4 separate regions of the Homo sapiens genome follow, and all the other regions are reported to be linked to region 4. Evidence: microRNA targets listed by miRTarBase, many of them from high-throughput screens and not tested one by one. Region 4 holds a microRNA gene; each other region holds the end of a gene's coding sequence. Distances are between the middles of the regions.

The links. Region 4 holds the annotated microRNA hsa-miR-6733-5p (UGGGAAAGACAAACUCAGAGUU, at 2,075-2,096, opposite strand). A microRNA usually pairs through its seed, bases 2 to 8, with sites in the 3' UTR of a target mRNA and lowers its output. Matches are read on the target gene's strand: a 7mer-m8 pairs with bases 2 to 8, a 7mer-A1 pairs with bases 2 to 7 and ends in A, and an 8mer does both.
Region 1: the mRNA of GPR61 is a reported target of hsa-miR-6733-5p. Seed matches in the 3' UTR shown: 7mer-A1 at 463-469, 7mer-m8 at 2,192-2,198 and 8mer at 2,785-2,792.
Region 2: the mRNA of WBP1L is a reported target of hsa-miR-6733-5p. Seed matches in the 3' UTR shown: 8mer at 3,343-3,350 and 7mer-m8 at 4,978-4,984.
Region 3: miRTarBase lists FIZ1 as a target of hsa-miR-6733-5p. Seed matches in the 3' UTR shown: 7mer-m8 at 4,447-4,453.

What each region holds. Positions count from the first base shown.
Region 1 is chr1:109,543,992-109,551,216 of GRCh38, forward strand. GPR61 (G protein-coupled receptor 61) reads left to right here. Exons shown (of 2, transcript NM_001393907.1): 2 at 1-3,269. The coding sequence ends at 387. It overlaps GNAI3 (G protein subunit alpha i3), which reads left to right and starts at 4,624. Exons shown (of 9, transcript NM_006496.4): 1 at 4,624-4,847. The coding sequence starts at 4,730. RefSeq lists enhancers at 1-238, 4,151-4,210, 4,741-4,910 and a silencer at 2,400-2,636.
Region 2 is chr10:102,810,803-102,818,668 of GRCh38, forward strand. WBP1L (WW domain binding protein 1 like) reads left to right here. Exons shown (of 4, transcript NM_001083913.2): 4 at 1,793-5,460. The coding sequence ends at 2,529. Among named protein-coding and RNA genes, the nearest start is that of CYP17A1-AS1, 18 kb to the right of the region's middle. RefSeq lists an enhancer at 4,618-5,151.
Region 3 is chr19:55,587,455-55,595,320 of GRCh38, forward strand. FIZ1 (FLT3 interacting zinc finger 1) reads right to left here. Exons shown (of 3, transcript NM_032836.3): 3 at 3,922-6,192. The coding sequence ends at 4,996. Among named protein-coding and RNA genes, the nearest start is that of FIZ1, 8.1 kb to the right of the region's middle.
Region 4 is chr1:43,169,612-43,177,212 of GRCh38, forward strand. MIR6733 (microRNA 6733) reads right to left here and starts at 2,101; the gene lies at 2,041-2,101. EBNA1BP2 (EBNA1 binding protein 2) reads right to left here and starts at 2,679. Exons shown (of 9, transcript NM_006824.3): 1 at 2,442-2,679; 2 at 2,275-2,358; 3 at 1,868-2,040; 4 at 1,145-1,268. The coding sequence starts at 2,507. It overlaps CFAP57 (cilia and flagella associated protein 57), which reads left to right and starts at 2,719. Exons shown (of 23, transcript NM_001378189.1): 1 at 2,719-2,842; 2 at 3,124-3,299. The coding sequence starts at 3,143. RefSeq lists enhancers at 1,754-2,390, 2,216-2,445, 2,391-3,026, 2,576-2,705, 2,786-2,835 and a silencer at 2,946-3,145.

The sequences.
Region 1 (7,225 bases), 66 Mb from region 4:
AGTGTGGTCACCTGGATTGGCTACTTTTGCTTCACTTCCAACCCTTTCTTCTATGGATGTCTCAACCGGCAGATCCGGGGGGAGCTCAGCAAGCAGTTTGTCTGCTTCTTCAAGCCAGCTCCAGAGGAGGAGCTGAGGCTGCCTAGCCGGGAGGGCTCCATTGAGGAGAACTTCCTGCAGTTCCTTCAGGGGACTGGCTGTCCTTCTGAGTCCTGGGTTTCCCGACCCCTACCCAGCCCCAAGCAGGAGCCACCTGCTGTTGACTTTCGAATCCCAGGCCAGATAGCTGAGGAGACCTCTGAGTTCCTGGAGCAGCAACTCACCAGCGACATCATCATGTCAGACAGCTACCTCCGTCCTGCCGCCTCACCCCGGCTGGAGTCATGATGGGCCGCTGGACACTCGGAGGGATATGGGGCTGGGGCCAGTTATGATTGCAAGGACCACCTTGTGGGATCACCTTTTCCCAGCTGGCTAGGGCTGAGGCTGGGGTCTCTGCACACAGCTTTTGCTTAGTGTTTCCTGGGTCAGGAACAGAGCCAACAGGATGAACGTGTGCAAAAGCCTTGGACTTGGCTGTGATCTTTGACTGCTAGGGGAGGGAACCTGGGTATGGTGAGACGGTGACGAGAGAAAAGGGTCACAAAGGTGAGGTGAAACCTCTCAATTGGTGAAATTTCCATGCTTCCAGAAGCAGGGAATTCTCTAAGGGTAGGAGTTGGAGGATACAGGGCAGCAGGCCAGGTTTGGAGTTATTCTAGGGGCCATTTAGGATATTTTATTTTTCAGTGTAATTGTCCAGGGCAGTAATTGCACCCAAGCAAGGTAAGAAAATGACCCATGTTTTCTCATTTCCTTGCTAGGTTTAAAAAGAACTAAATTATAGCCAAGTGTTTCCACTTGAGTTAATAGATCATTTTTCTGGTTTTATACCTGAGATTTCCTTAAAATGAGAGGACCAGTAGGGTGTATTCCTTTACTGAGTTTGGCCAGAAACAAGGCAAAATAGAAATTAGGGTACATGGAGTAGAAGATAGGAAAGCTGACTGCAGCTCTCTCTCTCCCACCCTTCAGGAAAAGCCCTTCTGTTCTATTTTTCTGTCTCTCTCCTGCACACAGGAGATCAAGGGTAGAGCCTGATCTTAGCAGAGACAAGAATAAGGCAGGATGGCTTTCCTCTCTTTTAGGAGGAAGAATTAGAATGACTGGGGGTCAGACGGGCGAGGGTGGAGGTTAGCATTTGAATTGGTAAAGTAGCTGGAAACAGAGAGGCCAGGTAATCAGCCTGATCAATAATACTGCGAATCTTTTCTTTCCAGGACTGGCCTCCCTGATCTCTCTCCTCATGGCAGCGACCCACCTCCAGTCCCCTGGACAATCGGGTACAAGAGACTTAAGGTTGGGCATGGGAAGGGTGGGGTTTCCATGATCCATTAAATGCCTTCCTACTCCCATTCATCGCTCTCAAAATTAGCTTCAGTGACAAAGACTTAAATCTCTCTCCTATCTGCAGCACTGGGTTGGAGAGAGGGCACGGGAGTTGGTCTTGGCTGTTCATTGATTGAGACTGTAGGAACTGTGTTGGTTGGTATTGGTGGTGGTATTTTCAACAAACAGGGAATAACTGCAAACTGGACAGGACACCCATCTGGGACCACCTGTCCATCCTACTTCCCTCAATTGAATCAGGTAACACTAACGGATCAAGGCAGGGCCAGAGGGTGGTGTGGTCTCTATTTGAACAAATTCCTGGCTCACTGAGCATCAAAAGGGGAAATGGGCTGGTGGGAGTGGGATAGTCTCCCATTTAAGCAGCTAATAAATAATTTTTATGATAAAAGGTTATACTGATAACAACATTGACTCCTTTAGTTCAATTCAGTGCATAATAGTTGAACACCCACTAGTCCCTGGGACCCACACAGGGCGTGTGGTCATTGCTTTTAAGGAGTTCATAGTCTAAGTTGATGAGATACCTTATATTTTCACAAAGCACTTTGATTTGATAAAGCACTACAGAATGTGCTTGAGAAATATATTGGAGAATATGTCCATGGCTCTAACTTCTGAGAGTTCAGCCCGTGGCAGCAAGATGCATACCTTGAAGCTTCCTGCAGATTGTGGAAAGCATAGGGGTTGTAAATGAAACTCTCTAATGAAGAAAAAAAATTAAATGAAACTGGGCAAACAGCTTTCCCCCTTTGTTCTAGGAAAATTTCTAGGTTGTCTTCCTACCACTAGATTATTATACCAGTCTAGTGCCTATTACATTGTGGAAGTTCCCTAAAAACATAGTATATATAGGGAGGAGAGTCCTTTGTGATTGAAAAACATGTTCACCTCTCCTCCCTATTAAAATAAATGCATACAGAGGAATCAATCATTCCTAGACAGGGAAAAAACTCTTCTTTCAAACACCACTGATCAGCTATTAGATCCAAGGAATTGCCAGCAGGTGGCAGTGTGAGCCCAATGGAAGGAGGAAAGGCGAGTGTACGTGGTGGGAGGAGGAAGGGGAGGGCATTAAACATTGCCTGGCAGCCATTTTGTTAATTTATTTTGCCTTTTCCTTTGACTTTGCCCTCCAGCCCTTCCTTCACATACATCAAAGAAGAAAGTTTTAAGAGCAAGGGTATCTTTAATTCAGGCTGAAATTTCCTGACACTGTGATCTCACTGGTGTTTATTACAGAGTTTGACATACATGGGTTCATTTGCCATTTATTTTTCCCTGTAGGAGTGGATCATGAAGGAAATAAAAATTTCTCTTTTATTATGCTGAGAACTTTCCCAACAATTTCTGCTATGACCACCTTCCAGGAGTTTTCTAGTCACCAGATGCCTTGGTAAAGTTCAATACGTAATCTTTGGCTCTGAAAGCTGTTCCTGGACAAAATCTGAGCTAACTCACTGAAGAATCAACAGATTGAGGCAACCATCCGGTCAGTTACTTTTTCCTGCATCCTGCTGGTGTTGGGGTAACTCCCAATCCTAGATGAAAACCTTAGACTTTCTGTTGTCAGGTGTCCCCAGGCAATATCCTACGGGGGCATGATAGAAAAGGGTAACTCTGGGGTCAGATAGATGTACTTACTCACTGTGTGAAGTTGGGAAAGCTGCTTAATTTCTCTGAGCCTACTTCCTCACCTGTAAAAATGGGGATCATTATTACCTACCTCACAGGGTTGTTGTGAGGATTAAGAGATGGGATGTGGGAGCACCTAGCCGTATCTGGCAAATAGGTACTCAATAAATACTGGTTTTACTTCCCTTTCCTCTTGCCCTTTTTCCCCAAAAGTATTGATAATGGAAAAGCAGTCCCTTTCATTCTTAACAGTCATTTGGGAATGACTGGGGGACTTTTCAAACCTTGAAGAATTGGCATTGCTAAGAGTTAAGGTGGACGAGGCTTTTTAAGGTGGCTCTAATCCTCTAATTAAATCCTTCTAATTAATGAATCATCACTATATAAACCTCTCTGTTGGGACCTTACTTTCTCAAGTTCAGATTCTATTAGAGAAATAAATTTACAATCACAGGGAAAGGTTTTAGGGACTGAGTTCCCTTCGCTAGAACGTATAGTAATTGTGGGCTTATTTGCCTGAAAAGTTGATTTAGGACTACCTTCACGCAGTATCCAGGGTTATTAGTGAAAGATGCTATCTGCCTGGGACTTTCACAGTGGACTTAAGTTTCAGGTGATACTAGGGCTGAGAGGCAAATTTTACTAGAACCTCTCCTTTTGCATGTTATCGCAACAGGAAATTTTAGTAGGAGATTCACAGGATGCACTGGTTTGTTTCGGGGTGTGGAATTGAAGTTGACTTATCTTGGTTTTAGTTCTAAGACCCTAAGGTAGGAAGATCTGAATTATACTGGAGAGAAGGGCAGCATGGAAATTTTATGGAGGAACTACAGGCTTACCTTTCAGGTTATCGAGTATCTGCTAGCGATTTCAAGTGGCCTTTTGCCAATATAGGAGTTAAGCAAATCTCAAGCCCACAGAAATACGTGAATAGCAAAAGGACCAGGGGACATTTTGAGAGGAGTCAGTGGGCCAGAGACGGCAAAAAGTTATTGCTGAGGTCCTAAGCACAGTCGGTGTTACGATCTCAGATGTGAGACGTGAACGGCGCCCAGGCCGGATAGCTTGTTCCCATTCCATTGATCTGAGATAACCCCAACGGAGGCAGTGTCCCATACTTGGGTAGGGGTCCCGAGTCTCCACAGCCAGAGATCAAAGGAGTTTTCTGGCAGGCGAGAAATTACCAGCAGATATTCCCGCGCGGGATGTAGGCTTTAATTTAGAAATCTCCGCCCCAAAACTGGCATCTTGAACGCGGGAGGGCATTATGAGTTAGAGGCCCCGGTTTTTCTCCATTTATCCAAATCAGGTAGCCGAAAGGTAAATGAGGCTTCAAGTTGGGCGGCGGGCAGCGAACTTGACAGAACCTCGAAACTCTGCAGATCCGCCGCCCAACCCAGCCGCCAGCTCCCCGTGACTTCCGCTTTCGGTCTCAACTCCTCTCCCTGAGGAGAGTGGTTTAAACGGTGAAGGCTGCGGGGCGTCGCCGGAAGTGTCGTAAACGTCGGATATCCGGTTCTTCTGGGCGCTAAGGGAGCTGACGGAGAGGGCCACCGCCCAGCAATAGACGGTGCCTCAGCCTGCCGAGCCGCAGTTTCCGTGGTGTGAGTGAGTCCGGGCCCGTGTCCCCTCTCCCGCCGCCGCCATGGGCTGCACGTTGAGCGCCGAAGACAAGGCGGCAGTGGAGCGAAGCAAGATGATCGACCGCAACTTACGGGAGGACGGGGAAAAAGCGGCCAAAGAAGTGAAGCTGCTGCTACTCGGTGAGGGGCTGGAGGCGGGGACTGAGTGGTGGTCGGGAGAGCCTAGGCGCTTGGAAGGCCTGAACGGGGTCTGGTCGGGCCGACGGAAAGGACCCTAAAGGGATCTGGAGGGCGTGCCGGGCGTGGGGCGGGGTGTTGGGGTTCCTAGCTGAGGCCCCAGAGGGCGTGATGAGGGGGGTGGGGTTTTGGGGTTGCGGGAATTAGGCTGTAGAGGGTGTGACTCCGGGCTAGAATTGCGTTTAGCAGAGAGACTTGGGAGTATGGGCCGGTAGATGTTGAGGGAGTAGGAATATGGGAAAAGCTCATAAAGGAAGAGTTGATACTAGGAAGGTTTTACGTTGGGTTGGAGCGTGTTGGTAACGAGAACGGCATAGAGTATATGTTGGGCTTGTATAATGGTTTGTGAGTTTGGAGCGTCGTGGTTCTTTGGCAGGATAAAGCTAGCAGGCTTGAATGGATGGTACAGAGACTGGAACAGAATGGTCACATAAGGACGTTGACATTTGTTAGTAAGAGAGCCATTTGAACTGTTGGAAGAACCCTGGATTATCCAGGAACATGAAGATAGGTAGGTGAGATAAATGACAAGTTATCAGGTATAAAGGAAAAGAGCTTGGGTGCAGAGGCCATCTCTACTTTTCCACCGTTTCCTATCATTTTTATTTTCAAAGTTTTATAACGTCTTCTTCTGTTTTTACAAAAGGATGGGAAATGGTGTGAGCTGAAGAAATTTAAAGAATGATTTCTTTGAGGTTTGTAGCAGAAGATCTAGTGAACAAGAGATTACACATTGGAGGATGCTGAATAGTTGCTATAGATGATGTGTAGTTGGAATAGTTACCTTAGGATAAGTTACAGAGTTGGACATATTCACTGTAAAGACTATGGTAGACTTCTGGTGGCTGTTTTATCCTTTTTGGCCTCTTCAAAGCAAAACCATTGACTTCAGGAATTACTGTTTATGTTATTTGATAGTCGTTTTAATTGGCTTTTTTTAAACACAGTCGGATGTATTTTACTCAACATGAGTTTCAAAATTTTTGAGAGGCTCAGTAAATCATACAAAGAATACTGGCATTAGCTTACTAATAAATCAAGCCACATTTCTTCATTATTAGTGAAGATTTTCTAGGGTAGTATTTCCATTATTTTCCAATATTTTCTAGGGTAGTATTTCCATTAGAGAAGAATAAGTAGGAGTAGGGGTTTCTACAGAAACCCTTACAAGCAATAGAAATTTACTTTTTAAAACAATTGATTTTTGAGGAAAAGGAGTCACTTTAGGGGAAATGCTAAATTTTCATGGTATAAAGCTCCAGAGAACAGAATGTACACTGTAACCCAAGACTTATTTTGTACATTCTAAGTGCCCCTGTTAGTCTCTTCGTGTGAACATATTTGGTTGGTTGTAGATTGCAGAAGCTCTGGTAATAGCTTTTTTGAATATACTATAAAGGGAAAGTTATGTATTGGAGCTTAAGGTTCCGGTTTGTATACCTGAACTTTCAGAAGATGCGAGTTCAAATTGTAGTTCTAGACTGCGACTGTCTGTATAACAGGTGGATATGCATGGTCCCTGGTACCTAGTAGGTGCTCCTTAAATATTTACTGTTAACCAGCCTGAGCCAGCAAATGTTGAACACTGGTCCTTGGGGCCTTTGAGAAATTTGATATAAACTATAACATTCAGGGCGTTAACTTTTTTTTTTTTTTGAGACGGAGTCTCCCTCTGTTGCCTAGGCTGGAGTGCAGTGGCGCGATCTCGTCTCACTGCAACCTCCACCTCTCGGGTTCACGCCATTCTCCTGCCTCAGCCTCCCAAGTAGCTGGGACTACAGGCGCCCGCCACCACGCCTGGCTAATTTTTTGTATTTTTAGTAGAGACGGGGTTTCACCGTGTTAGCCAGGATGGTCTCAATCTCCTGACCTTGTGATCCACCCGCCTTGGCCTCCCAAAGTGCTGGGATTATAGGCGTGAGGCCACCGTGCCTGGCCAGCATTTTCTTTATTGATCGATTGGTTATGAAAGTAAAGATGTATTCTCATCTTCTGTGAGTGATTTGATTTACACTGACCAACAGAGATACCCTTAGGACATCAGTTTATTGTAATGTAGTTGGAAACTTTGAGACTTTCTTCCAAAATGCAGGATTAGGCAGGCAGAATTTGGATAGGCGGAACTTGTCCAGATGTCTAGAAGAATTTTTGTTCAGGATTTTATCTGTAGTGCATTTAATTAAAAACAAAATTAGACACTTGACTTAGGGAACTTGAAAAGCAGTAAGTAAAAATCAAAGTACTAAACATATTTGCTTTTAATTTTTACCAACTTCATTCTTTTTTAAGTAAGATTTTTAAAATATTCTTGAGCAAGTTAA
Region 2 (7,866 bases), not on the chromosome of region 4:
GTGATCTGCTCGTCTCGGCCTCCCAAAGTGCTGGGATTACAGGCGTGAGCCACCGTGCCCCTGCCCTCCCCTTCCCTCCCCTCTTTTCCTTTCCCTCCCCTCCCCTCCCCTTCCTCTTTCTTTTCCTTTCTCTTTCTTACCCTTCCTTTCTTTCCCTTCCTTCTTCCCTCCCTCCCTTCATTCATCCATCTCTCTCTCTCTCTTTAATGGCAGATAGTCAGATAATAGAACAATAATTATTAACATTTATTGAGCACTTACTATATGCCAGGTACTGTGCTAAGCACCTAGTCCTTCTAGATGTGGAATTGAAACAATTGTGGGCCGGGCTCAGTGGCTCACACCGGGCTCGGTGGCTCAGCACTTTGGGAGGCCGAGGCGGGCAGATCATTTGAGGTCAGGAGTCAGTTATAACGTGAGTGAATTGAGACTTGGGGTTCATTGGCCTGAATTCCTCCCATTTTGCTTATTTCTGTGTGATATGCCTGAGCAGAGGCTGCCATGAAAGGGGCGGGTTGGGGGGTGGCATTGGGACTTCTGAGCACCAAGAAACTTAGTGACTCTCTGAAGAGCACTTCCCGGACTTCCCTGGGGCTCCTTACATGTGACCTCTCATATGGTCAGTGGAGGCCCAGCTGTGCCAGTTTTCCAAAGCCAGTCTACAGTGTATTCTACAAAATAAACTTTCACAATTGTTTCTTTACAATTGTTTCTTTTTTTCTTTTTAAGACAGAATCTCGCTCTGTCACCCAGGCTTGACTGCAGTGGCGTGATCTTGGCTCACTGCAACCTCCTCCTCTGGGGTTCAAGTGATTCTTGTGCCTGAGCTTCCCAAGTAGCTGGGACTACAAGACCATGCCATCACACCTAGCTAATGTTTGTATTTTTAGTAGAGATGGGGTTTTACCATGTTGGTCAGGCTGTTCTCAAACTCCTGAGCTCAAGTGATCTGCCCGCCTCGGCTTCCCACAGTGCTGAGATTACAGGCGTAAGCCACTGTGACCCACCATTATTTCAGTTCCACATCTAGAGGGGTTAAGTGCTTAGCACAGTGCCTGGCATATAGTAAGTGCTCAATAAATGTTAGTAATGTTATATTATAATTAAATTATCTGTGTCATAAGGCATTCAGCACATTCAAAAGATAACTCACCTAGCATGTTTTTAATAAGCCTTGGATGGCAGAGGCCCCTTACCCTTTGCCGGTCACCCATCTGCTCCTGATCTGAGTCAAGGTGAAGCTTGGTTTGTGTTTCCAGACCACCTCCAGCCACAGTAGAGACAACAGAGATTTCTAACCCCCTAGCAAAAGACCCTACATAGTGCATTTGGAAGGTTAGGAGGAAGAAAAGTAGTTAAGAAGTCTGAAGTTAGGGACCCTGGCCCTGAGGCCTGTGGGACTTGGATGAAGGACACACTCTAAGCAAGAACATGAGACTTGTGTGCATGTGGAAGTGGGTCCATTCCAGGCAGAAGTTATTTTTTGGCCATCTACCACGTTTGCCTAATTCTCTGCCTTAACTCCCAACAGGCGTGAAGTCCTTGCCTACGAAGCAGCTTTAGGGGCTCTCAGATTTCAAGAAGCTAGGTTAGGCCCTTCCCAAACTGCCCCTCTCTCTCTGCAGAATTGCTCGCAGCTGTCTCTCCTCTGCTCACAACCAAGAGCTGTAGCCATCACTTGTTGGGTGCTCTGGGGTGGGAAGAGACAATGCAAATATTCAGTGGGAGCTTTGCAGTCTGCCTAGAACAATGACCAGTGCAGTAATTTCTCCTTCCTACCTCCCCATTTTAGGGTTTTTGCCAAACTATTTACTACCTCCTTATGAGGAAGTGGTGAACCGACCTCCAACTCCTCCCCCACCATACAGTGCCTTCCAGCTACAGCAGCAGCAGCTGCTGCCTCCACAGTGTGGCCCTGCAGGTGGCAGTCCCCCGGGCATCGATCCCACCAGGGGATCCCAGGGGGCACAGAGCAGCCCCTTGTCTGAGCCCAGCAGAAGCAGCACAAGACCCCCAAGCATCGCTGACCCTGATCCCTCTGACCTACCAGTTGACCGAGCAGCCACCAAAGCCCCAGGGATGGAGCCCAGTGGCTCTGTGGCTGGCCTGGGGGAGCTGGACCCGGGGGCCTTCCTGGACAAAGATGCAGAATGTAGGGAGGAGCTGCTGAAAGATGACAGCTCTGAACACGGCGCACCCGACAGCAAAGAGAAGACGCCTGGGAGACATCGCCGCTTCACAGGTGACTCGGGCATTGAAGTGTGTGTGTGCAACCGGGGCCACCATGACGATGACCTCAAAGAGTTCAACACACTCATCGATGATGCTCTGGATGGGCCCCTGGACTTCTGCGACAGCTGCCATGTGCGGCCCCCTGGTGATGAGGAGGAAGGCCTCTGTCAGTCCTCTGAGGAGCAGGCTCGAGAGCCTGGGCACCCGCACCTGCCACGGCCGCCCGCATGCCTGCTGCTGAACACCATCAACGAGCAGGACTCTCCCAACTCCCAGAGCAGCAGCTCCCCCAGCTAGAGCAGGTCCTGCCAGCACCCAGCAACTTGGCAAAGCAACCAGGGTAGGGGAGAACCACGAGAGAAGCATTAAGTGACTTTCAAAGACTTTCAGAGTACAGCCACTTGGTTCCTTTTTGTTTGTTTTCCTTCTCCTCTCCTGCATTTTCCTCCATCTCCAGGTACAGTTCGGGGTGTGGATGCCTCTTCCTCCACAAGGGCACAGTGTTGTGGAGGGCTAAGTTGGTTCTGTGACTCATTCCTCATACCCTAACTCCATCTCCTTTCTTTAAAGTCAAATCTCACCTACCTGTTTGGGTCAGAGAGATGTGTTTTAAAAGCCCCCAAGGAAGGAGGCTGGGACTGTGCCCTGACATGATTCTTGGTGATGGAATAGGTTTGTGCTCTGATTCTAGTTTAAGAGAACGTTGCTGTATCTCAGTCCAGGAGAGGCAGCCCATCTTGGCCCTGGATGAAGAAGGAAACCCACAGAGGCCCAGGGCTTGTCATTGGGCTGCCAGTGTCTGCCAAGCCAGCATTGAGCTAATCCTGTGGGAGGATGAGAGCTACTGGGCCGTTGTATGATAGGTTGGTAGGGGCTTGTTGATCTGTCAAATTCCAGGTGACAAGATCTATGCACCCCATGCGTCCTTGAGGGGCCTCTTCCCCGCAGGCTCTGGCTGGCCGCAGGCTGGTTCTGGTGTGAAAGGTTATACTGCCTTTTCTTTGTTTGTTTGTTTTTTTCTCTAAAAACAAACAGCAAAAGACAGCTGAAAACAAGAACTTCACCGGTGGGCAGGCAAGAATTCTCTTCTGGAAAATGACGTTTGTGGCTCTTTCCCAAGTTGGCCTTCAAAGAGCCTGCCTGCTGTTGAGCCAGAAGATGTCTCGTGTGAAGGCTGGGGTGGCGGCTGTCTTGGAACCTCTGTGAGCAGGAGGCCCTAAGCCGCAGCAGTGGATAGAGGTGCAGCTCTCTGCCTCTCTGCCCTTTGGTCTGTGTTCACAGGTGACCCGTGTCAGCCTGCATCGCAAGCACACACCCTGCGGGCCTTCAAGTCTCACTGTTCCGTATGAGGAAACAGACAGCGGACTGAGGAAGCGATGGCCCCAGAGAAAGGGCCCCTGTAGCCTGGCTCTCACACAGTATTTTATCTTTGATTCTGAATAAATATTTTTTGTGGGGTTTTTTTTTTTTTTTTGGTGGCAGTTGTTTGTTTTAAACTGACCACTTGGAAGAAACACCTTGGTTATCTGTGGTTTTCATGCCTTGTCCCTGCCTCTACCCCCACCCCTTTTGAGTCGGGTGACTCATTTTTCTGTGTAGAGACTCGGTGGCCCAGGCAGGAGGTGAAAGCAGCCATCCGGAAGGCCCTGGGGACCCTTGTGCCTGTTGCTCGCCTTCAGGTCACCAGCTGAGCTGCGATAGGAAAATCTGAATGGAGGCAGCAAACAGCCAAAACAAACATTCCCCACCCGGCCCTGTGCATATGAAGTCTTTCTTCCCCCAACTCTTGAACGATGATGATATTCAGACGAAGCATTGATGTTATGGAAGAAAGAAAGAAACAAACAAAATATATATATATATGTCCAAAAACAGACAAATCCAAGGGTGTGAGGTAAACGAGTGTCTGCATTTAGATTCCACAAAACCAAAATCCATGTTGAACAAAGTTAAGTCCGTACACAGTGACTTTTTGGGTGAGCCGTGTGTGTCTGTCTGTTGTGTGTGTGCCTCAAGCCCTGTTTTCCTGTGAAGATACTTTGAGTGGCAGCCATTCTCTCCACGTGAACCACACGTCTGGAGCACAGACAGGCCTCTCAAGGTCATTGATCTTACGCATTTACTGTTTACCGAACAAATGTCTGACTGTGTACTCGGGTGTACTCCGCAGCATTGTCGACTGCAGTCCCCTGTGTTTGCCAGAGATACTGTGCTCGAAGTAGAGGTTTTACTCTACTCATCACTGCGATTTGCACATTGCTCCGTGGACACTCGGAGGCCTGCGTTCTGTTCCCTATAAATGGAAGCGTGCTCTGAGCCTGTCTGCCTCCCTCGGCTGCTGCTGGTCCTCAGTACCAGCGCCCGGGGGTGTCCACAACCACTTGGGACAGAAGAAGGTGGAATTTCAGACAGAAGCTTGACTGGGTCTTCAATGACAGGCTTGGACTAGCTGTGGCCCAGACATCGGCCCTGCCCAGAATTGCCAGGAGGAGGCTTTGCAGGCTCTAGAGGAGCCGCAGGGCCTGCCTGCCTCTGGTGAGTCCAACAGGCACAAGCAAGCTGGCGTGTGGCCAGAGGTAGCCGGAGTGTGTCACAGCCCCTCAGATGCCTTTCCTTCCACCTTTTTTTATTTTTTAAGAATCCCAAATAACTCACTGAAGTGTCTCAAAGGCGAACAAGTTTTACCAAAATGAATCCTTTTTCAGTTAACAGATCAAATGGATGAGTTCTGAGCCTCTCAAGTTCCTTTCCCCAGTTAGAGTGGGGAACTGGGCAAGTGTTAACTGTGGGACTCACTGCAGCGTCCTATCCTAAAGGCACGAGAAGACGGAAATGCAACCTGCGGAGCTGGGCTTGGTTCCCAGGTCACAGTTTGGCCCCCGCTACAGGATGCTGCCCTGCTCAGAGAGAGATTTAATAGGGAGCTGAAGGAATCGTTAGGGGGCCAGGGAGATGTGACTGAGGCTGGCTTTCCACGTGAATGAGACGGGGTCGGTGGAGGGTTTGGTGCTACAGCCAGTCAGAAGATTTGCAAATGCGAACACATTCCTGTGTGAGGCACGTTACCCTTTGTCAGTTATTGTGAATATGTGTATTTTAAGCAATAAGATTCAGCTGGTCAGACTTTTCTGGGCAGTCTCAGTGACGCATTTCCTGTGCTGTGATTGTTCTGAAGACAGAGTGGCTCTAACCACTGTGAGAAGCCCAAATAAAAATTGATCCCAAAAATGCTACTGCTCTTTCTTGCTGCACTTTGTTCCCTCTTCTTCTTCCTCAGTCTTCAGGAAATTGCACCTCAAGATCCTAAACCACAAGCACTTTTCTCCACACAGAGACTGAGAGGTTGTCACACAGTCATTGAGGATAGGGCCCTGGGCCAAAGAGAAACCACAGGGCCAAGGGCAGCTGGACAGTGCTGCTGGGTCCACACTCTGTTCTGAGGAGTCCTCCCCTCTCTCTGTCAGGGTGTGTTCCTGATGTTTGGAATACTTTGGAAAGTCCCACAAACAGGCTAAAATCAGATCCCGAGAAAGCAGAGACAAGTTTTGTCAGATACCCTGTTGCTAAAACATGGCTTTTTTTTGAGACACAGTCTCACTCTGCCGCCCAGGCTGGAGTGCAGTGGCGCGATCTTGTCTCACGCAGCCTCTGCCTCCCAGGTTCAAGTGATTCTCCTGCCTCAGCCTCCTGAGTAGCTGGGATTACAGGTGCCTACCACCACGCCCGGCTCATTTTTGTATTTTTAGTAGAGACGAGGTTTCACCATGTTGGCCAGGCTGGTCTCAAATCTCCTGACCTCAGGTGATCCGCCTGCCTTGAGCTCCCAAAGTGCTGGGATAACAGGCCAGCCACCCTGGCCTGGGACTATAGGCATGAGCCACTGTGCCCAGCTATTTTTTTATTTTTATTTTTTAAATAACAGAGATGGGCTGGGCGAGGTGGCTCACGCCTGTAATCCCAGCATTTTGGGAGGCCAAGCTAGGCAGATCACTTGAGCTCAGGAGTTTGAGACCAGTCTGGGTAACATGGCAAAACACCATCTCTACAAAAAATACAAAACTTGGCTGGGTGTGGTGCTGTGTGCCTGTGGTCCCAGCTATGTGGGAGGCTGAGGTGGGAGGATGGCTTGAGCCCAGGAAGTGGAGGCTGTAGTGAGCTGAGATCACACCACTGCACTCCAGCCTGGGCAACAGAGCGAGACCCTGTATCAAAAAAAAAAAAAAAAAAAAAGAAAAAAACTATATGTATGTATATATATATATATATAGAGAGAGAGAGATAGGGTCTGACTGTGTTGCCCAGGCTGGGCTCAAGTGATCCTATAGAGTCTAACTATGTTGCCCAGGCTGGGCTCAAGTGATCGTACTGGCTTGGTTTCCCAAAGTGCTGGGATTACAGGTGTAAGTCACTGTGCCCGGCCAAAACATGGCATTTAAAAGAAAGCAAGCACTCTGAGAGATCTTTTTTGTTGATATGATAGACATGGGGGTATATGCTTGGCCTTGGAATTTAACACACAGTATAATGTATCGAGTTGCCCACTTTCTGCCCAGCACTGTGTCAGAGGCTCAGGATAATGTCAAAGACATAGAAGATGAGGCCTCTGCCCTCCAGAACTTACAGTCAGAAAGACAAAACATGGCCGAGCATGGTGGCTCATGCCTGTAATCCCAGCACTTTGGGAGGCTGAGGCGGGTGGATTACCTGAGGTTAGGAGTTCGAGACCAGCCTGACCAACATGGAGAAACCCCGTCTCTACTAAAAATATTAAAAAATTAGCCAGGTGTGGTGGCATGCGACTGTAATCCCAGCTACTTGGGAGCCTGAGGCAGGAGAATCGCTTTAACTCGGGAAGTGGAGGTTGTGGTGAGCTGAGATCGCACCATTGCGCTCCAGCCTGGACAACAAGAGCGAAACTCCATCTCAAAAAAAAAAAAAAAAAAACATACTTGTGTGAAATAGTTAATTAACAATATAAGTTAAGTTTGAGGTGAAGTGAATGGTACAGATTTGGAGCTTTTCAGGGAATAGTGGGAGGTAGTTTGAGGTCTTGAATGCCAAGCAAGAGGTCTCGGAGCTGATTTTAGGTAGTGAGGAAGCCACCAGTGTGCCAGAATCTGTCATTGTGGGCCAATGATTCTTTCCTAATACAAGGAGAGTTCCTTTGTTCATTTTACCATCTGCTTAAGACTGACCTCTTAGGTGTAAGTGCTTTTTTTTTTTTTTTTTGAGATGGAGTCTCGCTCTGTCGCCCAGGCTGGAGTGCAGTCGTGCCATTTTTGCTCAGTGCAACCTCCACCTCCTGGGTTCAAGTAATTCTCCTGCCTCAGCCTCCCAAGTAGCTGGGATTACAGGTGCCTGCCATGACGCCCAGCTTATTTTTGTATTTTTAGTAAGGATGGGGTTTCACCATGTTGCCCAGACTGGTCTCGAACTCCTGGCCTCAAGTGATCCACCTGCCTCAGCCTCCCAAAGTCCTGGGATTACAGGCGTGAACCACTGTGCCTGGCCAGGTATAAGTCCTTGTTTGAAGAACAGCTTGCTACTTCTCTGCCCAGGGAGGACACCCCTACCCAGCAAGACTGCAGATGGGCAAAGCAAGGTAGTACACATCCTAGGAACCCTCCAGGAAGG
Region 3 (7,866 bases), not on the chromosome of region 4:
CTTTCCAGTGCGCAGCTCCGGGGCTCAGCCTGTCTCTAAGCCGGTCTCGGAGTGGGCGGGTCTTGTCCCTGGGGGCGGTGCCTGCTTCGAAGTGGGCGGGCCTTGTTTCTCGAAAGAAGATACTTTTTTTCTCAAACCAGAAAGCATGTCTGGTTTTTGAGTGGCGGTTGCAGAGTGGAGAGGAATATCTCTAAGATTTAGCTGATTTTATTCCCAAAGGTTGAGCTTTTTCAAACAGGCAACAGTGGATCTCCATTCAAAAAGTCTCCCTTGAGTGCTAAACTCTTACTTGTTTTCTCCTCCCAGAATATGTCTTCCTCCTTTAAATTTTCCTTTCTTTTTCTTTCTTTTTTAATTTATATTTTAAATTTTAATTAATTAATTTATTTTTTCAGACGGACGTCTCGCTCTGTCACCCGGGCTGGAGTGCAGTGGCATGTTCTTGGGTCACTGCAACCTCTGCCTTCTAGGTTCAAGCGATTCTCCCGCCTCAGTCTCTCGAGTAGCTGGGATTACAGGCGTGCACCACCATGCCCAGCTAATTTTCGTATTTTTAGTAGAGACGGCATTTCACCATATTGCCCAGGGTGGTCCTGAACTCAAGTGATCCGCCTGCCTCAGCCTCCAAAAGTGCTGGGATTACAGGCGTGAGCCAACACGTTCGGAATTATTTTTTATTTTTGAGACGGGGTCGCACTCTGTCGCCCAGGCTGGAGTGCAGTGGTGCGATCATAGCTCACTGCAACCTCGACCTCCTGAGCTCAAGTGATCCTCTCAGCTCAGCCTCCCAAGTAACTGGGACTACAGGCGTGCACCACCATGCCGGTTTTTTGTTTGTTTGTTTGTTTTGTTTTTGGTAGAGACAGGATCTCACTATGTTGCCTAGGCTGGTCTCGAACTCCTGAGCTCAAGCCATCCTCCTGCCTCAGCCTCTGAAATTGCTGGGATTACAGACATGAGTCAACTCGCCCAGCCTAAAATATCTTCTTTGTGAAATATAAGACACACAGAGAAAAAATGCACAATACAAACACACAATTGAATAAATAATTATAAAATGATCGTCCGATTAAGAACTAGAACTTTGTCGGCTATCAGCAACCGTGGAAACTTCCAGGATATCCCCTCCCGCTTAACTTGTCCAGTCCACTATTCTGAGTTTTATAGGACATTGTTGTCCTTGCTTTTTTATATGGTTTACTACTGACAATGTATCCTTAACAATATTACAGTTTAGTTTTATGTGCATTATAATGGGTTTGCTTTTTTTTTTTTTTTTTTTTTGGAGACAGGGTCTCCCTCTGTTGGCCAGGCTGGAATGCAGTGGAATGATCTTAGCTCACTGCAACCTCCGTCCCCCTACCCCAGGCTCCAGCGATCCTCCTGTCTCAGCCCCCCGAGTAGCTGGGCCTACAGGCACACGCCACCACACCTGGCTATTTTTTGTATTTTTACTCGAGACGGGGTCTTGCCATGTTGCCCAGGCTGATCTCGAACTCCTGGACTCAAGCAATCCTCCTGCCTTGGCCTTCCAAAGTGCTGGGACTATAGGCGTGAGCCACTGCACCTGGCCTCAATGTTATGTAAATGAAATCATGCTCTGTTTCTGGCTTTTTGGGTCCTGTATCTTTGTAACTTTCATTCATGATACTGTGTTTATCTGCAGCTCATTCATTCTTGTTGCCGTATAGTATTCCACTGCATAATATGCCATCGCTAATTATCCACTGTATTGCTGATGGGCGTTTTGGTTGTCCTGAGTTTGGGGTTGAAAGTATTGCTGCTATGAATGTTTTTGTATGTCTCTGGGTGCAGGGGGACTTGAGTTAGCATTTACGCCTAGCAGTAGAATTCCTGCATCACAGGATATATGTATGTTCAATATTTGAGAATGGCAACCTGTGGGGCATTTAATTTAAGAAACTCAGCAGGGTGCAGTGGCTCACACCTGTAATCCCAGCACTTTGGGAGGCCGAGGCGGGCAGATCGATCACCTGAGGTCAGGAGTTCGAGACCAATCTGACCAACATGGTGAAAGCCCGTCTCTACTAAAAATACAAAAATTAGCTAGGTGTAGTGGTGCACATCTGTAATCCCAGCTACTTGGGAGGCTAAGGCATGAGAATCACTTGAACCCAGGAGGTGGAGTTTGCTGTGAGCCGAGATCACACTATTGCACTCCAGTCTGGGCAACAGAGTGAGCCCCTATCTCAAAAACAAACAAAAAAATCTTAAGGAACTAAAGGGGAGGAAACTTTGATTCTCCTAAACTCCTACTTAAATGTGTCCTCCCTCAGTTTTCTGGTCTTAGTAAGAAATGCCACCACTCAACCATTTATTCCTGATTTCTCCCTTCCCATTACACTCACCCCCAACCAATACACACATGCACACAACCAGTCCTCTGCATTCGTACTCCAGAGTTCATCTCCAACCCACCCATTTCTTTGTTTTGTTTTATTTTATTATGTTTAGTACAGACAGGGTCCCACTATGTTGCCTAGGCTGGTCTCAAACTCCTGAGCTCAAGTGATTCTCCCGCCTCGACCTCCCAAAGTGCTGGGGTTACAGGCGTGATTTCTGTTGGTCACTCTGGTTTAGGCTCCCACAAGTTTCTCCTGGACTGCAGGAGCGCTGCACTCTCCTGACTCTGCGTCCTGCAGCTTCGTTTACACTCAGCAGCCACAGGGATCTTGGTAAGATGCAAGGGTGGTCCCTTCCCTCCTCGATTAACACTTTGCTTCCCATCACCCAGAGAACACAGTCAAACACCTGTTTTGGCTTGCCTGGCTTACTGTGATGTGACGTCTACCCACCTGTTAACCTCATCTCATCCTTCCCTCCCTGAGCTCACTTTCCTCCTGTGTCCATTTGGGCATCCTCCTGGCAGGTCCTTGCTCACCCTTACCCTTCAGGGCTCAGATCAAACGCCACCTCCGCCGAGAAGCCCACATGGACCACCCCATCTAAGGTGGCATAAAAAGTGAGTAAGGTGGCCATTCATTTTCTTACCACCCTTCCCTATTGCCTTCAGAATGCTCAGGACGATCTGAAATTATTTTCTACATTTACTTGATTCCTCTTTTCTCCATACCCGTCGCCTACACGACAGAACATAAACCCCAGGAGGGCCGGGATGATCCCCACAGGGAGTTCCAACGCCTGGCTCAGAATAAGCCTTCAGTACGGGAACACAATGCAGTGTGCAGGAGACAGTCTGAAGGCACCCCCACCCCCAATTCTCTGATGAGCGGGTCCTATTCTGGGGGTCTGGTATAGGGTCCAAGGCAGCATCTAAGAGGCGGGGCCTCTGCTCAGACACGCCTCTAATGAGGCAGTTTGGTTTCCAAGGGGTGTGTCCTATAAGATTGGTGACTTCTAAAGGGCGTGTCTAGTTTCTAGGGGGCGTGTCCGTCTGTTGGAGGTGGATCATGTATTTAAGGGACGGAACTCATTTTGATTGATACTGACTCTAATTGTATTTATTTATGAAACAGAGTCTCGCTCTGTTGCTCAGGCTGGAGTGCAGTGGTGCAATATCGGCTCACTGCAACCTCCACCTCCCAGGTTCAAGAGATCCTCCTGCCTCAGCCTCCCGAGTAGCTGGGATTACAGGCATGTGCCATCACACCCGGCTAATTTTTGTATTTTTAGTAGAAACAGGGTTTCCCCATGTTGGCCAGGCACGGTCTTGAACTCCTGACCTCAGGTTATCTGCCTCGGCCTCCCCAAGTGCTGGGATTACAAGCGTGAGCCACCAAGCCCAGCCTAAACCGACTCTAATTTAAAAGGGCATGTACTATTCAAAGCTTTGAAACTTCTCAGGAGAAAACGAGGACCCGTCTCTATTTAGGGAGTCTGTCCTAAGAGATTCCCCATCCCCCCCGCCTGGAGCCAAGGATCAGAAAATGAGGCATCAGCGACTGACAGGACAAGGTTTATTGGGGGTCCTGGAAACACTGGGGAGAGGGACGAGGGGGCAAGGTCGAGGCTCACAGGGGCACCCCCTAGCCAAATGCCCCCTTCCCCTAGGGATTGGGAGGAAGACAGAGACAGACAAACCAACAGAGATGGAGAGAAAGACCAACGGATGCTACGGAGAGAGGGAAGGAAACCCCAGTGTCCACCACCTCCCACTCAGATGAGTTCACAGGATAAAGAATTGCGTGGACCGGTCCACACGCTACAGGAAAAGAGAGGAGTGTCCGCCCTATTCACTCTAAGGAAGGTGGCAGGCCACAGCCTAGACCAGCCCATTCCATGTGATGGGGGTGTGTGCACATAGATCAGTCCATTCTACTGGGCAAGGGGATTTCAGGCCAGTCTATTCTAGTGTTTGGGGCGGGGAAGATCGTTAGGGTCGATCCATTCCACAGTCGGGGAGGGGGGATTCGAGGGCAGGGGGCATCTACCCTGGTCCCTCTTTCAGCACAGGGAATGAAAAAGGGGAAAGGCAGATTTCGGCTATATCCATTTTCTGGGGTCACCAGTGACTCTGGTGGGTGGCATTTGGAGGGATCTAGGAAAATTCAGGGACATGCTCCCTCCACATTCTCCAGATCAAGGTCGTTAGGAATGATGGCTCTCAGGGAATGGGGCAGTCTTCCCTTGGTGGGGGTGGGTGCCCATCTTTTAGTATTAGGGCTCTCAAGATGAGAGGTACTTGTGGAGACCCATTGCTCACTGCAAAGTCCCCATGTCTTGGGGACTTACGGCTACCCACACTCATTCCAGGGACCTCAGGCTCAGGAGTCTCTCCCTAGATTTGGGCTCCCCTGCCCCAGCTAAGGACCCTGTTTGTTTGTGGTCCCCCAGCTCCGGGGCCTTTGTGGGTTTTTGGTGGCCCCCACCTCTCCAGTCAGGGTCCCCTCATTTCAGGGCCTGCGTCTGGATTTGGATTTGGAGGGCCGGGGCCTCACGCGCAGTCCCGAGGTCCCCTGGTCCAGGCCGAGTCCAGGAGGCTGGGTGGAGGGCAGGGCGCACGCAGCCTGGCAGTCAGTCCATGCCCCGGTGCAGCTTCAGGTGCCTGGAGAGGTTGCTGAGCGTGATGAAGCCCTTGCCGCAGATGTGGCAAGGGAAGGGCCGCTCGGTGCCGTGCAGCAGCCGGTGGCGCTTGAGGTAGCACTCGTGGCGGAAGAACTTGCCGCACTCCAGGCACGGGAACGGCTTCTCGCCAGTGTGCACCAGCACGTGCCGCTCCAGGTCTCGCGGTGAGCGGAACAGCTTCTCGCACTCGGAGCAGCCGAAGATCTTCTTGCCGCGGCCGGAGCCAGACGGGGGTTCCCCGGACGCCGGTTCCCTTTCCCGGGCGGCGGTCGCCGCCTCCTCCCCGCCGCCCTCACCGTGGCTGACCCGCCGGTGCTCCTCCAAGGCGGCCAGCGCCGCGTACAGAGCCCCGCAGTGGCCGCAGCCGTAGGTGGCCGGGCCCGAGTGGGCCTCCAGGTGACTGGCCAGGGCCGCGGCCGACGCAAAGAAGGTCCCGCAGTCGCACTGGTACAGGGTGTCTTCCGAGGGCTCGGCGGCCGCCGCAGGTGCAGGCGCCTCCCCACCGCCCTCGGGGAGCAGCCCCCCGAGCTTGGGCACGCCGCCCCCCGCGGGGCCCAGGAGCAGCCTGCGGTCCGAAGCCAGAGGAGCGTCGCCCGCCTCCGCAGCGGTGCCTTCGCCCGCCGTCTCGGGCCCTGCGCCTGGCCCCGCGGCCCAGGCCTGCGCTGGGGGCGCGCCCGGGCCCTGCAGGTCGTGCGTCAGCTTGTGCCGCTCCAGCAGCGCGGGCGCGTTGAAGTCGCGCTCGCAGCGCGGGCACTTGAAGGGCTTCACGTCGGTGTGCGCCGCCCAGTGGGCCGCCAGCTCGCGGCCGTGGTCGAAGCGCCGCGCGCAGGCGCCGCACGCAAATGGGGGCAAGGAGGCCGCGGCCGCAGCTGCCGCCTCTGCCAGCCCCCAGCTGCCCAGACCCGCGCCTGCCCCCTCGGGGCCCTCTCCGCCGCCGGCCCCTGAGCCCCCGCACACCGAGCAGGGCCCCACATTGCAGCAGACGGAGCAGGGCGCACTCAAGGCGGGCAGGCCAGGGCCGGGCTGCAGGGGAGAGGGGAGAACCCCACGGTGCTGGCGCTTGAGGTGGCGGCCCAGGCTGGAGCGTGAGGAGAAGCGGAGCTCGCAGACCAGGCAGCAGTAGGGTTTCTCACCAGTGTGGACGACCTAGGGGTGCGGGAGGAAGGGCACAACGTCAGGGCTGAGAACCTAGCCCGGACAACGGATTCCTGGACTCCCAGAGGGTTGTGGCACAAGCTCTCTGTCACACCTACAGGGCCATGATCTAGGGAAACGCTCGTCCTATCACTCTCTGTTTGGGGTCACGGTAGATTCTTTCGGTCCTTAAAAAGGCCATGTCCTGGCTGGCCATGGTGGCTCACGCCTGTAATCCCAGCACTCTGGGATTGCATAAGCCTAGGTGTTTGAGACCAGCCCAGGCAACACAGGGAAACCTTGTCTCTACAAATAATTTTAAAAACTAGCTGGACACGGCACACTCCTGTGGTCCCAGCTACCTGGGAGGCTGAGCCAAGAAGTTTGAGGCTGCAGTAAGCCGTGACCATGCCACCACATTACAGCCTGCATGACAGGGTGAGACTGTGTCTCAAAAAAAACAAAAAAACACGACTGGGTGCGGTGGCTCACGTGTGTAATCCCAGCACTTTGGGAGGCTGAAGTGGGTGGATCATTTGAGGTCAAGAGTTCGAGACCAACCTGATCAACATGGTGAAACCCTGCCTTTACTAAAAATACAAAAATTACCCGGGCCTGGTGGCGGGTAGTCCCAGGGACCTGTAGTCCCAGCCACTCAGGAGGCTGAGGTAGAAGAATCACTTGAACCCGGGAGGTGGAGGATGCAGTGAGCCAAAGACGTGCCACTGCACTCTAGCCTGGGTGACAGAGCGAGACTCTGTCTCAAAAAAAAAAAAAAAAAGCCCGGGTGCGGTGGCTCACGCCTGTAATCCTAGCACTTTGGGAGGCCGAGGCGGGCGGATCATGAGGTCAGGAGATCGAGACCATCCTGGCTAACACGGTGAAACCCCGTCTCTACTAAAAATTCAAAAAATTAGCCGGGCGTGGTGGCGGGCGCCTGTAGTCCCAGCTACTCAGGAGGCTGAGGCGGGAGAATGGCATGAACCCGGGAGGCGGAGCTTGCAGTGAGCCGAGATCGCGCCACTGCACTCCAGTCTGGGCGACAGAGCGAGACTCTGTCTCAAAAAAAAAAAAAAAAAAAAAAGAAATCACTATCGGTGGCTAATGGCTATACTGGACAGTGCAGCTCTAAAGTGACACAGCAGCCAGCCCTAGCAGGGTGTGTCTTCTCCCTTGTCAAGCCCTGCTATCCCGAGCCAGTTATCATGAGCTGAATACAGGCCTTAGGTGTGTTAGGGCAGAGAAGTGATTTTGAACCGAATCCGGCTACTGCTCAGAGTTTCTCCCACTGAACGCTTTTCACACATACAGATCCAGGGAATCACTTCCAAGTCTAGGGAATCGAATCTCCCAGGAGGGAGTCCAGGAATCTGTATTTTTTTCTGAGGCATTGCCAGGCTTGTAGACTGTGTAAAACCGTGCCTTAGAGAGGTTTTTTGTATTGATATTTGTCCTTGTTGATTTAAGATTTTGGAATAACAGAGAGAGATTTGTGAGTATGGTAATGTCTTCCTGGAGGCCTGTGAGGAGAAGGGTGAGGCTGGATGAGAAAGAGTGCAGTGCTTGATTAGTAATGTCTGCCAGGGGCACAGATCTGAAGAAGGAACAGGGAGTGATGTTCATTTGCCTTTCTGGCTCCAGACTCGATGCACCTGCTGTACAGTGTGGGTGTAGGGATCTCTATCC
Region 4 (7,601 bases):
ACAGATATCAAAATCCACAGATGCTCAAGTCCTTTATATAAAAATGGTGCAGCATTTGCATATAACCTACACTCGCCTCCAGTATCCTTTAAAGTCAGAGGACCTCAACTCCCAGGCCACAGACCGCTACGAACCCACTATGAATCTGTGGCCTGTTAGGAACCAGGCCGCACAGCAGAAAGTGAGTGACAGGCAAGCAAGCATTACCACCTGAGCTCCACCTCCTGTCAGATTGGTGGTGGCGTTAAATTCTCATAGGAGTGCGAACTCTACTGTGAACTATGCATGGAACTATGCATGCAAAGGATCTAGGTTGCCTGCTCCTTATGAGAATCTAATGCCTGATGATCTGAGATGGAACGGTTTCATCCCAAAACTATCCCCTCCCCAAGTTCATGAAAAAATTGTCATCCACGAAACTAGTCTCTAGTGCCAGACCGCTTCTTTAAATAGTCTCTAGATTACTTATAATACCGAATACAATGCTATGCATCACCTCATTCTCATGGATTCAATGTAGTTCTCGGCACACGGAAAATTCAGTTTTCCTTTTGCAATATTTTCAAATTTTTTTCCCCAATATTTTTGATCCAAGGTTGGTTGAATCCACAGATGCTGAACCCATGGCTATGGAGGGCTGAATGTATGTTGGATTACATGCTGGCAATCCCTTCTTCCAAAGTTAAATGAGGTCCAAGTTCTACCCAACTCTAAATTGTACTATATCTGAACCATCTAAGAATCCCTCATTTTACAGAGGAGAAAACTGAGGCCCAGAGAAAAGTAATTGTCTACAAGTTCTAGCACTGACAGTGGCAAGGGCACAAGAATGCTGTCCTCTCTGCACACCATGTCATGACCATGCCAGCTAGGAAATGCACTGGGCCATCTTCACCTCGGGGACCACACTTCACACAGCACTGTTCCTCTCCTTAATTGCTGATTTTAGAAAAAATGTCATTTTTATATGCATCTAATTGGTGGTAACTGGCATGACTCTGAAGTAGCCAATCTATGGAAGAGGTAATAATTGTCCTCTGACAACTGGCTCCCCGTTATTGGGCTCATAGCTATCTTTCTAAGCCAGCTGAATATGCTTAAGTACAAAGTTTTGACTTTCCAGAGGAAAACTTCTATTTCTTACCTTCTGCATCTGCAGATCAGATTTGGCCATTTCCGCAAAATAATCAGTGGGTCGCTTCGTAGGGACTTTGAGCTGATGGAGGCGGGGTAAGACTGCAAGCACTGCGGCCTGGGCTTGGCGATAGCTGAGAATCGTAGGACAAAATGTGTAATGAGGTGAAGGAGGAGGCCTTACGTTCCTTTTCACCGCCAATCATGAGTTATCCAAGCTCAGAAGGACTCTCAAAATCTGACCTCCATTAGCAAGAACAAACAAACAAAAACTGTCTCACTGATTTAGTATCTAAAAGAAATGTAGCCGTATACTAGTTTTTAAAAAGGGGAGGGGTGTTGCTAAAAATAGTTTAAGAGAATGACTACTCTAAAGGTACCCATTAACACAAACGAATGTCGATTATGGATTCTTATGTAATTACTAAAGCAATTCCACACAAGAACATCCCATAAGCAATGTTTGTTTGTTTGTTTTCCTAATAACTGAAGCATGCACAAAAAGTTTTAACATGAATATTTCAAATTAGCCCATAAAGTGGATTTTGGATCGTGACCGTGGACCAAAGAGCTCTTCTCTCAAACAGGAAGAATCTCCTAGCTATTCTTAGTCAAAAGAAGCCGCTCTCTCTACTCCTAGGCTTATTCTGAGTGCAGACTTACTAATTTCCCCTCTTTCCCACTCTCCTGCACAAGGATCCTCAACTTCTCCAACATTTGAAAACAAACATACAAACTCATCTCTCGCTGGAAGTCGTCTTCTGGATCAACAGCTTTCTGGTCCTTGTTCTGAGGTGCTGGCGCCTCAGATCCACCGATCTCCGGTACCGGACCCAGTGTCACATCGAGCCTTTCAACCCATTCCAGATCCCGCTTGAATTCTGCCAAACATTGCTTCAGGCCATTCTAGGAAATCCAGACACTGAGCTCACAAGAAGGGAACTCTGAGTTTGTCTTTCCCAAGCACAGGCTGTTAGGCGAAGGGACAAAGTGCTAATCCCCAATACCCAGACAGGTAATTGACCCTCTTGGCGAGGCGCAGGGTGCATCTTTCCTGGGACAAGAATCGGTCTCCCAAGCCCAACAGCGCCTGAAGCGCATCCCATGTCCGAGTACCCCCGACCCTGTGCCCACGCTCACCACGTCGTTCACGGCCTTCTTCGGCCCCTCTAGCACGACATTGAGGCCTGGCTTCAGAAGCCCTCGGGAAAACGCATCCTGCAACTGCAGGACACAATCACGGTCACTCCCAGGGGTGTAAGGCCCCCTCTCCCACGCCCAGCCCCACGAGCTCGGCTGACACCTACCTCTCTGTCTGTGACAAGGGATTCATCGGATTCCGACTCCGAATCCGAGAGCGGGGGAGTGTCCATCTCGCCGCACGCACGTCCCACACCTACAGGAAGAAACGGGGTATCCCGAGACCCAAGCGGCTAGCAGAGGGCGGCCCTGGCCGCTGCTGCCTGCCTTCAGCCCCCTACTCCCACGCCGTGGCTCCACGTGCCACCGAATCGCTCCAGCGCCAGCAACTCACAGCTACTGCTCAACTTTTGATTGGGACTTCCGCTTCCGGCGGCAAACCATACTTCCGGTTTGTCGTTGCTATAGGAACCGCTACGGCGTTTGAAAGTGTCCGGGTTGCTTAGGATCCCTACAGGTAGCGCCTCTGGATACATGCGTGGTCTGCTGACCCAGAGAGAAACGAAAGGTGGGAGGGGGTACCTGGGGGTCGCCAGAAGGAGCTGGTAGCAGTGAGGGTACAAAGGAAAAGGCAGAAAAAGGAGCCGCGGGGGTGGGGTGGCGCGGAGGAGGACCCCGGGGGAGGGGAAAGGGGAGGGACAAGGGGAGGGGAAAGGGGAGGGACAAGGGGAGGAGAAAGGGGAGAGACAAGGGGAGGAGCAAAGGGCGGGGAGGGCGAGTCCGGGCCGGGGGCGGGGTCGGAGCGGGGCGGTGCTCTCCACTCTGAAGCGCTGCCTTGGTCTTCAGCAGAACTGTTTGGCGGGAGATCATGTCAGCCGTGGTAGCTCAGACGCTGCATGTTTTTGGTCTTCGATCCCACGTGGCCAACAATATCTTCTACTTCGATGAACAGATCATTATATTTCCTTCAGGAAATCACTGTGTGAAGTACAATGTGGATCAGAAATGGCAAAAATTCATTCCAGGTAAAACTTTTTCCATCCTGACATATACAGGAATGGTATGTGCCACATATAACCCCATAATCCCAGCATGATGATTGGAAAGAAAGATTTTGGCCAATTTGAATATATATGCAGTATTATAAATGTAGAGGAAATAAATGGCGACTTGTATTATGAAACTAGATTAATCAGTCACGCATATGTAGTTAAAATCACATATAAAATGTTAATTTAAAAGTACTTTTTTCACTGTAATTTCATGAAAATATGTTAAGAACCCCTCTTTTGGTGTCTTCAATATCACTGCCTTTGTCATCACCAGAGCCACTTTTTGAGTTGTCTAACAGTTTTCCTGAGCACACCACCTTCATTATATCACCGTTTGAATCCAAGTATGATGAAGACACTGTAAACTTTATCCCAAGTCGCAAATAACCATTTGTATAGCATTACAGCCCTTATTTTTGTTCACAGTGGTCCTGTTAATGATATTCATTATTTCAACAACCGAATCCATTTTCCCATTCTTTGTTGCATTGACACCTTTTATTGTGACATATACATACAAAAGAATGTACCCTACATATATGTCATATTTAAAGAATTACAATAGAATGTAGATCTGTGAACCCAGCCACCCAGCATAGGAAACAGAATATTACCAGTTCTAGTGCTTCTCCCTGTATTCTGTGTCTTGCTGCATCAGTTCAATGTCATGCTTTTGAGATTCACACATCTCGATACATATAGCCAAGTTCATTTTATTGCTATGTAGTGTTCCATCATATGAATATAATGTCTCAAATATATGTATTCACTCTAATATTGAGGGACATTTGGGAAATAACAATCATTTGCTATTACAAACTATACTACTATAAACATTCTTGCATGCATATACATTCATCTATTTGTGCAGATTCTCTAGGGCACACAGCCAGGACTAAAATTACTGAGCAATATGATAGTACCAATTTACACTCCCACTAGAAGTGCATAAGAGTTCTTATTCCTCAGCAACCCTGCCAACCCTTGGTATTGTCCAACTTCGTAATTTTTTGCTAACCCAATGGTTGAGAAAAGGAATTGTGGTTTTCGTTTGCATTTTGCTATCATTAATGATGATGAGTATCTGTTTATGGGCTATTCCTATTTAGTCGTATGTTAAATGCCTTGTTCAAGTCTTTTACTTGTTTTTTACAGTTTGTTGTGCAGGATATTTTTGGGCAATTTTATTGATTTACATGCACAATTTATATATTCTGTATATCAATAATTTGTCAGATATATATATATGTCTTGCAAATAATTTCTTTCAGTTTGGGGCATTTTTCTCCCATCTTACAAGTATCTTTTGATGGACAAAAATTATTAGTTTTAATAAAGTCAAATTTATCAACCACATAATATTCTGTTGGAATAAGCTGTATTAAATACAGTTGACTTTAATTTATTGATGTTTATTTCCAGCATATTTGCTAAATTATTATTAATTCTAATGATTTGTCTATAGATTATGCAGAGACTTCTACATAGACTATCATGTTATCTACAAATAACGATGACTTTCTTCCTTTTTCTTGTGTTACCTGTGCTGGTAAGCACCTCCAGACAGTGTTGATTAGGGGCAATAAAAATGGACATCTGGCCAGGTGTGGTGGCTCATGCCTGTAATTCCAGCACTTTGGGAGGCCAAGGTGGGCAGATCACGAGGTCAAGAGATCAAGACCATCCTCGCCAACATAGTGAAACCCCGTCTCTACTAAAAATACAAAAATCAGCTGGGCGTGGTGGCACGTGCCTGTAGTCCCAGCTACTCGGGAGGCTGAAGCAGGAGAATTGCTTGAACCCGGGAGGCAGAGGTTGTGGTGAGCCAAGATCGCACCACTGCACTCCAGCCTGGGAAACCAAGCCAGACCCTGTCTCAAAAACAAAAATAAAAAAGATCATATGACTTTCCAATATAAATTAAATTATGGTTTTCTACAGACAACATTAATTTATATTTGCTCTCATACTTACCAAACTTTTTCCCACCATTACTCTTTACAAATCAGATATTCCAGCTGGGATCATTTTCCTTCTGCATTTACTGATAATGTATTAATAAATTCTCCCAGTTTTTGTCTGAAAATGACTTTATTTTATCCTCATTTCTGAAAGATAGTTTCAACAGGTGTGAAATTTTTATCAGCATATTATAGATCATATTCCATTGTGTTTTTTTGGCTTCTCTTTTGTTGCTGTGGTTAAGAAATTAGCTATCAGCATCGTCTTTCTGTAGATGATCTTTTTTTCTGGATGTTTAATATCTTCTCTGTCTATGGTGTGTGTGTGTATGTATCTATACACATACACCATATACATATATACGTATAAAATACACACCATATATACACACACCATATACTATATGTACATGTATATATACATAGTATATATACATACATATAGATACAGACACACACATCAGTATAGTTTTTATTTTCATTTTTTATCCTCCTAGGGATTATTTGAGATTCCTGGATCTAAGGACAGGTATCTTTTTTGTTCTGTTATCTCCTTCTGGAACTCCAAACCATCTCAACTCCATCCTTCCAGTTTTTTATTTTATTTTATTTTATTTATTTATTTTTTAAGAAACCAGGTCTCACTCTGTTGCCCAGGCTGGAGTGCACTGGCACAATCATAGCTCACAGCAGTCTCAAACTCCTGGGCTCAAGCCATCCTCCCCACCTTAACCTCCTGAATAGCTGGGAATACAGGCATGCACCACCTTGACCAGCTAATTGTTTTTATGGAGATGGGGTCTGGCTATGTTGCTGAGGCTGGTCTTGAACTCCTGAACTCAACTCATCCTCCCACCTCAGCCTCCCAAGTAGCTGGGATTACAGGTGCAAGCCACCACACCTGACGTTCATGTTTTTGGGTTTTTTTTTTTTTGAACTCTTATTTGGATTTTTTATACCTTACTCTCTCTGTGTTGCATTCTAGATAATTACTTTAGATGTATCTCGTAGTTCATTGCTTCTCTTTTCTGCTGCATCTAACTTAATGTTTAATGTATCCATTGAGATTTTACTTTCAGTTATTGTGCTCATATTCTTACACTTCTTACTGTATCACTTCTCTTCTGCTCCTAACTCCATCTTATATCACCAGGGGCCTTGTACACATGTGGGTGGATCCTTGCAGCCCATATGTTCAAATTCTACCCATATATTCTATAAGCAACCACCCTGTGCCCATCCTTCAGGCCCAGGTTGAGTAGAGACAGCCTGGGAAGAAACCCCCAATGTTGGTCTTGTCAGCAGGCTCAAGACTATCTGAGCAGGGAACTCCAGAGTCCTGGGTACCTGCAACGTGATCTAGAAGAGGCAGGACAAACTCCAGGCAGCCACTGTATCCCACTTAATGGTAAGGGGTACAGCCAGAGAAAGACTCCGGGATGCTCTAAAATTTGAGGCCCAAGGGAGGATCTCCACTGACCAAGTCTAAGGGTATTACCGGTGAAGGGAAAAATATAAAGGTCATGACATTGGGAGACCTGGCTTTGATCTGGCTCCCCATTTTATAGGCTCACAGAGCCTCAGTCTCCTCATCTGTAAGATGCAGATGATGCTCAGCTTGTTCAGCTCAGAGTCATGATGAGGCTCAACATATTCATTTGTTCACTCAACAAAAATGTATTAAGTACCCCCTGTGTTCCAGGCACAAAATAGACACGCACATATGCACATAAAATGCTGTCCTCACAGTGCTTCCATTCTAAGAGGGGAGAGTGACAAACAAAATAAAAAGAAGTACAGTCTACATGCTAGATAGTGATAGATGCTAATAAGAACAAACAAAGCATGGAAAGTGAAGCCGTTGGGGGAGTAAGAAGTTGTAGATAGGGAGGCTGGGGAGGGCTCACTGAGCAGTGATTTTTGAGTGAAGACTGAAGGAAAGGAAGGAGCTGGCTGTGCTGATGTGGGAGGGCAGGGGGAGTAGCCGAGAGACTAGCAAAGGCTCAGAGTTAGGAGGGTGCTTATTGTGTTGGAGGAATAGCTGGGAGGCCAGTGTGGCTGGAGTGGTAAGAACCGGGGGGTGAGGAGCAAGAGGGGAGGCAAAGAAAGAATGGGGAGCAACACCACAGAGGGGCTTGCAGTTCATGAGCTCTTACTCAGAGTCAAATGAGAAGCCATAAAGGGGTGCGTTCTGAGTGGCAACATGATCTGTGTTTCCTCAGGTTCATTCTGGCTGCTGTACAGAGGACAGATTTAAGGAGGAGAAAGAAAGGAAGCAGGGAGAACAGCTGAGGGATGATTGCTGTAATTCAGG